2 separate regions of the Homo sapiens genome follow, and region 2 is reported to be linked to region 1. Evidence: microRNA targets listed by miRTarBase, many of them from high-throughput screens and not tested one by one. Region 1 holds a microRNA gene; the other region holds the end of a gene's coding sequence.
What was found. Region 1 holds the annotated microRNA hsa-miR-552-5p (GUUUAACCUUUUGCCUGUUGG, at 2,542-2,562, opposite strand). A microRNA usually pairs through its seed, bases 2 to 8, with sites in the 3' UTR of a target mRNA and lowers its output. Matches are read on the target gene's strand: a 7mer-m8 pairs with bases 2 to 8, a 7mer-A1 pairs with bases 2 to 7 and ends in A, and an 8mer does both.

Region 1 (5,391 bases):
TGAACTAAATTCTCTACTTCTGTATCCTGGTTTTACATTTCATAGTGATTGTACTTGAAATCACCACCAAAAAAAGAGCATTATGCTACAGGTGTGTCTTCTTCATCATAAATCAATCAAGGCATGAGGAGATCCAATAATAACCCTATTTATGAACAAGCAGTTCTAGCCTCACAATTACTATCACCAAACATTTCAGAATAATGAAACGTTTCCAATGAGAATTAATTTAAAAAGACCAAAATGCATGCAAACTTACTTCCATGAAACTTAAATTCAAACCATCCCATGGGTAACCAAATTATACTTGTAAAGAACTCAAATTGATTGGACTTCAAAATTCAAAATTCAATTGTAGAAAATAAAATAGGTTATAAACCGCAAAGGCCTTTGCCAAGCCATCCCCTGCTCTGAAGCACAATCCAAACATCACATGGTCACACGTCAGTGCTGCCTGCAAAGAAATCCATTTTACAAACAAACTTAGGGTAATAGGACCCAGATCTGTAATGCCTTATCCTGATTAATGACGGACCCACACACTGTTATATCCATGGTCACCAAGAGAAAAGCTAACATTCTTGGAAGCAGCATTACTCTTAAAATTGCAATAATCTCCAGGGAAAATAACCCAATTTAAACTTATTCCCTCTTTAGCTAGAATGTGTTTAACTCTTTTAAACTTGTTCTTTGCTGTTACCTGTGTCCTTCAAAGACATGCCCCTTGTTATTCTACGTAACTCCCTTCACTCAGACCTTCAATAATTGCAAAAGCAATTTAACCCCCAGTTTACCATGATACTATTAAAGAGTAAAATAGTCAGTAGCCCAAAGAAATTCTTAGGAAGCCAACACTTTCAATTGGCATGCTTTTTTTAGACCCTAAATTCATATGCATAAATATGCATTCGTTCAGTCTGTCAACCCACGTCTAGGTAATGGTTGAATAAGTTAGAGGAGCTCTCTGACGTCAGGGAACTTACATTCTAGTCAGAAGAGGCAGATACATGAATCAACAAACAAGACCATTCAGGATGCATACGCATTGATCTGAAAGTCTCTTCACTTCACTTGCCTGAGCTGAGGTGGGACCACAATCTTTGAAGAACCAAAGAAGGAGAGTTCTCAGAAGAGGTTATAGCAAGTGCAAAGGTCCTGTGGCAGGAAAGAGCTTGCCAGGCTCAGGAGGTGGAAACATACATTGCCAAATACAAATACACACACAACATATACACCAACACACACCAAAGACTTTCTACAAGGTTTCATTAAATACTGAGTGGGTACAAAAGATATTTATAAAACATGTCTGCTGTACAAAGAATAACAATAAAGGGAACATTCGTGTATCCCACCATCCAGTTTAGAAATGAAAGCGTGACCATCAAGCATGACCTCTTTGATCTGATTGCCTCTCTTCGTAACCCAGAGAAATGCTAATCTGAATTCATTCTCCAATGTTTTTTTTCTTTATCACCTTATATCCTGAACAATATATTGTTTAATACGTTTTTGATCTCTAAGACTAGAATCTTGCAGTTATGTAGGTTTGTATGGCTTGGGGTTTTTGTAGCCAAGTCAAAGCTATGATAAATTTGTTTCTGAAATTTTTGAGTGAAAGAGTTAATAATTTTTAATTAGAATTTGTTATTGAGATAATTATAAATTCATATGCAATTCTGTGTACCATTTATCCAGTTTCCCCCAGTGGTAACTGATATGGTCTGGCTGTGTCCCCACCCAAATCTCATCTTGAGTTGTAGCTCCCATAATTCCCACGTGTTGTGGGAGGGACCCAGGGGGAGATTATTGAATCACGGGGGTGGTTTCCCCCATACTGTTCTCATGGTAGTGAATAAGTCTCACAAGGTCTGATGGTTTTATAAGGGGAAACCCCTTTCACTTGGTTCTCATTTCTCTCATATCTGCCACCATGTAAGACGTGCCTTTCACCTTCTGCCATGATTGTGAGGCCTCCTCAGCCATGTGAAACTGTAAACCCATTAAACCTCTTTTCCTTTATAAACTACCCAGTCTCAGGTATGTCTTTATCAGCAGCATGAGAAGAGACTAATACAATAACATTTTTAAAACACTAGTACAATATCATAACCAGGATATTGACATGATACAGCTCACCAGTCTTACCCAGATTTCTCCAATTTACTTGTATCATTTGTGGTCTGTGTGTGTGTGTGTGTGTCCATCACTAAAGTCAAGACATCAGCCAGTCCATCACCATGAGGATCCTTCATGTTGTGCCTTTATAACCACCTCCCTCCACCTCACCACATTCTTAACCCTCAACAACCACTAATCCCTTCTCTATCTGTAACATTTGTCATTTCAAAATGTTATATAAATGTAATCATACATATGTAGCCTTTGGCATTGACTTTTTTCACTCATAATAATTCCCCAAAGATTCATCCAAGTTGTTTGTAATCAATAGCTTGTTGCTTGTTTATTGCTGAGTAGTATTCCATCCTGTGTATATACCACAGTTTGTCTAACCAGTCACCTGTTGAAAGGCATCTTCAACCAACAGGCAAAAGGTTAAACAAACTGTGGTATATTTGAATGGTTAAACAAACTGTAGTATATTCGACTATTACAAATAAAGCTGCTGTGAACACTTGGCTATTGCAAATAAAGCTCCCCAGGTTTTTGTGTGGACATAAGTTTTTATTTCCCTGGGATAAACACCTGAGGGCGCTACTGCTGGGTCATAGGCATGCTGGGTTTTATAATTAGCTGCCCTCTGTTTTCTAGGCTAGATCTACAATTTTACATCCCATCAACAATATATGAACAAGCCTATTTCTCTACATCCTTGCCAATGTTGGGTGTTCTCATTTTTTTTTTATTTTAGCAATTCTGATAGATGCATAGTGATATGTTATCATGGTTTTAATTTGCATTACCCTTATGTTGAACATATTTCATGGATTTTTTTTGCCATTTGAATAACTTACACTATGGAATATCTATTCATGTGTTTTGCCCATGTTCTAGTAGATTACTTGTTTTCTTTTTACCATTGAGTTTTGAGAGCTCTTATATAATCAAGATTCTAGTCCTTTTCAGGTGTGTGATTTGAAAATATCTTCTCCTACTCAGCAACTTGTCTATAGCTTGCTTTTTTACCCAAGATTATTGTCCTCAGTTTTATCTATGCAGATGGATTTTTTTGGTTTTGTTGCTGTATCATTCTACTATTGTTTTGTATTTTGCTGTATCATTATACTATTGATGGACATTGCTTATTGTTCTGCTTTCACAAGCCATGTTACCATGGGCTTTCTTGATGTGTCCACTGCTGCACCTATATAAGTTCTCTAAGGTATAGACCTAGTAACATTTCTGGATCACAGGGTATGTGCATTATTAATGTTATTAGATAATGCTGAATTTATGCCAAAGAAATTTCATCACTTAGAACTGCCACCAGCAGTGTAAAAGTTCCTATTACTCCATGCCTTTGCTAGCACTTGATCTTATCAGACTTTTTTTCAATTTTAACAATGTAATGGGCATATAATGATATCTATTTCATTTGTATTTCCCAAGTTACAAATAATCATACAAATAAATACAAATAGTTCCTTTACTTCCCTGGTGAAACTGAATATTCAGTCTAGACATTCAGATTTCCTGTTTCATTAAGTGTCTATTTAAGTTACTTTGCCCATTTTCGTATTGAGTTGTGTATTAGTCTGTTTTCACACTGCTATAAAGATACTACCTGAGACTGAGTAATTTATAAAGAAAGGGGTTTAATGGACTCACAGGGAAAGCCTCAGGAAACTTATAATCATGGCAGAAGGCAAAAGGGAAACAAGGCACATCTTCAAAAGGCAGTAGGAGAGGGAGAGAGAAAGAAGGAGAAAGAGCCACTTATCAAACAACCAGATCTCATGAGAATTCACTCACTACCACGAGAACAGCACGGGGGAAACTGGCCCCCTTGATCCAATCACCTCCCACCAGGTTCCTCCCTCTGTTGGCAGTGGCCGCTGCCATCATGCAGGCTGCAGCAGGGAGGCACCACCCCAGGGCTGCACACTCCGTGAGGCAGGCAGGAGCTGGTGACAAGTGGGAGCCCCACCCCTTTTGAGTTGGCAAGGCGGGAGTTCCCTAGGTGCAGCTGTGGCCACCCTCCCAAGCGCAGGACCCGAGAGTCTCTGCAGTCTTCACTCTTGGGGGCCTCAGAAGTCCCCCCCAACCCCCTGGCCCCACAGGCTCTAGAGTGTCTGCTCCTGCTGCCTGGCCTCTCCACTCCTGGCACCCTACTCCAATCTTGGAGCCAGGTTGGGGCCTATCCTGGGCACTGGCACAGCCTGGCCAGGTGTGCACATGCTTGGGGCAGTGCTGACATGCCAGTACCCTGCTACCTCGGCCTCCTCCAGAATTTGGGCAAAATGAGCATGAGAGGAGAAACTGAGGGGGAGGGCTGAGGGTGGCTTGGCACTGGCCTGCAGGTGCCTTTTGGTGCAAGCAGCCTGGGCACCATAGGCACCATGGATGGCAGCAGGAGGCAGACAGGCTCCTGGATTGAAGGGAGTGGATCCCTAGTAAGGCCCTACCTTTAGGCCAGGGATGGCCTGAAGGCTGGGGGCTGAGCAGTAAGTCCCGCAGATCAAAGTGGGGACTTGCAGTGCCTTTCAGGCCTGCCCATGGCCACCCATGGACCAACTGACACACACTTCCTCCCCTCTGACATCCGTAAAAGCCCCAGGCTCAGCTAAAGCAGGGTAGAGGATGGAGAGATGATGGGATGACCAACTTCAGAGAGGAGCTATCCTCTCTGCTGAGAGCTGGGAAGAAGAGAGGAAGACTTGCCTGTAGAGAGGAGCAACTTTCTCCAGAGCCTCCTCTCTGTTGAAAGCAGCAGACATCAGGATGACTGGCTGCAGAGAGGAGCTACCCTCTCCAGGGCCTCCTCTCTGTTGAAAGCAGCAGACATTGGGATGACCACCTGCAGAGAGGAACTACCATCTCCAGGGCCTCCTCTCTGTTGAGAGCTGAACCCCTGACAGGACAAGGATGACCAGCTGCAGAGAGGAGTTACCCTCTCTAGAGCCTCCTCTCTCTTGAGAGCTGAACCCTTAATGGGACAACCTGCCAGCAGAGAGGAGCCACAGACCCCAGGGCCTCCTCTCTGCTGAAAGCTGAACACTCAACGAGATGACCTGCCTGCAGAGAGGAGCTATCCACCACAGGTCTCTTCTGAGCATTCTAACACTCAATAAACCTCCTCTTCATCGTGTTTACCCTACACTTGTCTGTGTACCTCATTCTTCCTGGACACAGGACAAGACCTCAGCAAAGGTGCCACCAGCCACAGAGGTTTCTGGCCAATTGATACCCCAAAGATCCCTTAACACCTCA
Region 2 (5,391 bases), not on the chromosome of region 1:
GAGGATTAAGTAAAGTAATACATTTAAGACACTTATCCTGGTGGCAAGAAATAGTAAATGCTCGATAAATATTAGCTAAAAGTATATATGCCGATATACATGGGTTAATACAGATACTACGATGGAGTATTAGATAAAGTTCTAGCTCACTGCAGCCTTCACCTTCCAGACTCAAGCGATTCTTCTGCCTCAGCCTCTCAAGCAGCTGGGACCACAGATGTGTGCCACCACACATGGCTATGTTGCCCAGGCAGGTCTTAAACTCCTGGACTCAAGCAGTCCTCTCCCCTTGGCCTCCCAAAGTGCTGCGATTACAGGTGTGAGCCACTGTTCCAGCCCTGAGGTTCTTGATAGTCTAGGTAGAGAGGAAAATTAAAGAAGTTATGTGGAAAACATACATTCTTTAGGAGAGTTTTTCCTGGCACCAAATAAATATTCATCCCACAGAGTTAGAGGGATATTGAGTACTGGACTTGATTATGTCCTTGACCCCAGTACTAAATTTGTGAACTTGGACAAGTTATTTAACCTATCATGTATAAATGTATTAACATACTGTATGTTTACTTTTAGTCACTTTTGAGATTGATAAAAAGTGCTGAATAAAGTGTTTTGGGAAGTGCCTTTTTCATTCAATCCTGTACACCTAAAACTTGTTTATAACAACTAGTTTATTCATATTCATCTCTGTAATATTCCATTGTGTGATTATATCACAATTCATCCTTTCTCCTGTCAATGGGCATTTAGGTTGCTTCCAGGGTTTTCGCTATTGCAAATGGCTGTGGTATAAAAATTCCTGTATAGCTCTCCTGACACTCAAGCGTACTTCCCCTCCAATAACCTGGATTGTAGATTCTAGCTGTTTCAGCAGCCGGAAACCTCCACTCCGCCTCCTCAGTTCAGCAATACCACCATTCTGAGCCGCATTCCTTGCACCATGGTTGGGAATGTCCTCCCATGGAGACAGACATGGTGAACCTGGGATTCACCTTGTGTATTTCCTTTCTTTTAGATATCAGTCTGCTTTGACTAGTATCCAATTCCTGAAAACAGTTGCTTCATATATTTTGTCCAGCATTAACTGTTGTTTGGGGTAGCAAGATAAGTCCACTTAAAATTATAGCCGGAAGTGGAAGTCTATTCATCCCTATTTTCTATTCAAATATTTAGTTTTGTTTCGGTTAGTTAATTCTTAATACAGCTGTGGTTTATTTGCTCAAACCAAAAGCCCAAGAGAAATTTCATTTAAAGGTAATTTGAAGGATACAATATCTTAGATATTCTTCAAGATGCACTTATCACATCACAGTTTCATAATGCTCAACACTTCTTAAAGTGCTTTCACATGGAATAATTTTCACGTACCTAAACTATTGGCCTATTAGGTATCTGGCTTTCTGGTGAGGTACTTGTCATGTTTTCCATTGAATTATATATGGATTTTTTTCCCAATTATGTCCAGAAATGAAATATATTCCAAGATCCCTATGAGAAACTTAAGAAATAAAGAAACTCCCATTTATTCTAGTCTGGTGCTGTCACTTTTTCAAATTTCTTAGCCTACTTCTACAGCAGCTAAGAATTGGGAGATATGACAATAGACAGGTCAGTTGAGAGAAAGTTTCCCAAATCAATACAGCCACTTACTTGAATCTGTTAGCAACCGTATCTTCTCTTGAGATGTGTTTTGTACAAGGTGCTATGGACTATTTCTAATTTCATTGTGGTAGGCTTCCCTTCTCTTCATTTTTCTCCACTTAACCTGATCTGTCAGGTTGTAAACAAATTTGATTTGAAGGCATGTTTGCTTCTAATAGGCAATTCTATAGTACAGCCAAGAAGGCAATTCTATATACAGCCAAGAAGGATATATGTTGCTGGGGTAATTTTTTATAATTAAAAAAAGTATAAACTTAAAAAATTGGTATACATAGGCAAACAGGTAAAAATAAACCTTTGTTTCCTTCCAACAGATACATAAGCTCTGAGTATTCTAAGCATGTGTAACAGAATGCTAAGCAACAGTCAAGCACATACTCAACTAATAACTATGGTCTATAATATTTTAGGTATTGTGTGTCTTGTAAATAGTAAAATCAAGTAATTCTTTCAAATGTGCAGTGTTTAGATTTGAAATGATTACAAGCACCAAAAAAACCCATGAATTAAAATACAATATTTTATTTTTGTCACCTAAAAAACAAGCAACCCAGAATTAAGATATACGTAAGTTTCTCAAATTTATCCTAATAAAATTTTGAATATTTATACAATTTCTACAGAAACATACAGTGTATCAAAATCTGCATAAATCAAATTTATAAAATGTGTAGAAATGCATAGTGATATTACCAACTTACAAAGCAAGGATATGGGAATTATTTCCAAAGCAGCCTACAGTAGAAAATAGTCATTATGGCAGCAGCTTCTGATGTTTTTGTTTGGTAGGTTTTCTGATTTCAATATATAGAATCATATTCATAGAGTATCTTCTTTTAACGAATTGCACAAAGTACCCATTTAAAATTTACATGCACAGTTCATTGCCACCTTTCTTAGGCCTATGCATAGTTAATAAGGTTATAATCTACTCAACATGGAAAATGGAGCCTATTTGCAAACACACAAGTAATTAAAGTACCAATTCTCTCTTAGTTTCTTTTTTTATAGTTGGTTTATTTTGCAATTATAAATGTTAAACATCCCTAGAGATGAAAGTTAAAATGGTTGATCACAGATCAGTAGCAAAATACAAATTGACAATTCAAAATTATAAATAAAACTCTGTTGAGGATGTTTAACTTTGAGTCTCCAAATTTAAGAGCTAAGCTTGGAAGAAACAAATTTATAGGTTATATTTCCCTCTTAAATTAAAAAACAAACTTCCTCTGGCAGTAGTTTGTGAATTCCTTTCATTGTAATGATACCATGATTACAGGATCAAAAATGCTTAACTTACTTGCCATTCTGCTCACATCATCACAGTTGTTTTTTTTTTTTTAAGCACTCAATGTAGGCATTTTAATCTTCTGGATAACAGAGTATCTTTTGAGAAATTAAAATCGAATTGACCATTTGCAATATTTGGTTTTCCTAATAGGTACTGTCTTAGTAAATGTTTAAATCCAAACAAATCTTCTGTTCACCGGAAAAATACTAATAAAAATACACTTTCTAAAAAGAAATTAAGAAACACTAGGGAACACCTAATGTAACAGAAAGTAGTTCACGTTTGTTAATAAACTGTATTTTTAAATAGTCCTTTGTTTTTAAATTTTAAAAACGTGCAGATAATGTCATTTGGATGAAAATATAAATGAAACATCAGTTCACTCTTGGCTTCACAGGTTGCACAGCTTAGGTTATAATGCACACAAGTTTTATAAGGCCTAATCTAACAAGGGCTTGGAAAGTCTTACCTCAGTCAGAATGAACCTTTGATGTGTTTATAACGGTGTTTTGTTGTTTTTGTCACCCTCGCTTTCAAGGGATAACAATAACAACTGATAATAGTTTTCTGTATTGGCAGGTATTGGAGAAAAGTAAATCCCAAATGTCAGTGGACAATTTTTCTCTAGTTGGAAGACTCCTTTGCAATCCTAGAAGTAGGTATGGACAGAGGGCACTGGGAATGCCAGTAGGTAAGGGAGTGAATGCTACACAACTTCCAACCCTATGGGACAGCCTTGGGATGTTCCATATTGTCATTTCTTTTTCAAGCCATACAAAGTTCAACTTTATAGCAAATGGCAGCACATAAATTCATTTCTGAGTAGTAAAAGTATTCCCCATACAGGTGACAAGTCCATCATTACCATCCTATAGATTTCATCACAAGCTCTTGAAATATATACTGAGAAATGAAAGAGGCACTAAATGTGTTGAAATTCACCTTTCAAAAAAGCAGCATGACTGTGAAGGAAGGCCACCTTGGCTAATAACCTGTGGCAGTGCTTCAAAAAGATGTAAAATTAAATAAAGACACAACAGGTTGATAATCACCAAGTTATATATGAAAGTCTGGCTACTCCAACCTTTTTTCAAGTGTGTTAAAAATAAAAATCAAACTGCCTTTCAGACCCCTGAGTGTAATCCCAAAGAAGACAACATGCTTTAACTCTGTCTAATAAAACAGAGCTAAAGGCACAAATTACCAACATCATCTTAAAACACAACAAAAAGATGTAAACATCTACAAAGTTTAAGGTAAAAGCAGTCTTGTAAACAGTAACTGCAGATGATAATGTTATTGTAAAATCACAGTTTATCAATGTCCTTCAAACTGATCAGGAGGTTCCAGGTTTGGAGCTATACAGAGTTAATAACAATAGTTGCAGCAGGTTTCAGGCGGTTTTCAGTCCTGTATAAATTTACTTGTCAGTAGGTAGGTTATTGGTTTATTTTTTTCTCTCTAAACACTATGGATGTTATTCATTTCCCATTTTTGAGTCGTTTTACTGGAGTCACAATTGGAGATGAATACTTGATGCAGGACCTCTGAGCGATCTAAACACTTTCCTGAAGGAATATGAGTAAATCTGTGCAGGTTCTGGAAAACACAGTAAGAAAAAAGTTTCAAATTTGGACCCTTGATATCACTGACATCAGAAATCATCACTTGACTTTCATGAGGAGACAGTTTAAGGAAATGGAAAAGCTTCTCAACCACACCTCAGACTTTGGATTTCTCTTGATTGTCAGTTTTCTGGATTTCTCTTGATTGTCAGTTTTCTAAGTCCTAAGATCTTTCATTGTTAAGTCACAATATACTGCTGGTATCTCACACTCAATGTATACAAACCTAAATTCATTATCTGCCCCTCCAAATCTATGTCTCTTGTTCCTATCCTGGCTAATGACATTCCCAGCTCTCTAGTCCTTAGGAAATACTGCACTTTTCCTCATTCACTCACATACCAGTCACTAAGGATGGATATGTGCAATGTCTCTGGTTTATATTCCTTCCCATCGCCACTGCAGATGCCCTGGTTTGGCCCTCACCATATGCTGTAGGTTTCTTCAATATAGCTCAGAGCTTCTCAAAGTCTGGTCCTCAGACTATCCAGGATTGGGTCTGTAAGGCCGAAACTATTTTCATCATAATACGAAGACACCATTGCCTTTTCACTTTAGCAACATTTATACCGATAGTGCAAAAGCAATGGTGAGTAAAACTGATGGTGCCTTAGCATGAATCAAACTATGCTAGTACCTATAGTTGTATTGCTCATGGCCACACACAGTTGAAAAGTAAATGCCGGTTTCACTTAAGGATGTCACTGATGAAGGAGCAAAACATTCGTTTTATTCAGTCTTGACCCCTCAGTATACTTAAAAAAAATTCTATGAGATGAAGTGGGAAGTACGTATCAAGTACTTCCATATAAT

Region 2: miRTarBase lists GALNT7 as a target of hsa-miR-552-5p. Seed matches in the 3' UTR shown: 7mer-A1 at 2,497-2,503.

Annotation. Positions count from the first base shown.
Region 1 is chr1:34,667,109-34,672,499 of GRCh38, forward strand. MIR552 (microRNA 552) reads right to left here and starts at 2,586; the gene lies at 2,491-2,586. All of the region lies in intron 1 of LOC105378641 (a long non-coding RNA gene), which reads right to left.
Region 2 is chr4:173,320,741-173,326,131 of GRCh38, reverse strand. It overlaps GALNT7 (polypeptide N-acetylgalactosaminyltransferase 7), which reads right to left. Exons shown (of 12, transcript NM_017423.3): 12 at 2,165-4,552. The coding sequence ends at 4,415. Among named protein-coding and RNA genes, the nearest start is that of HMGB2, 11 kb to the left of the region's middle.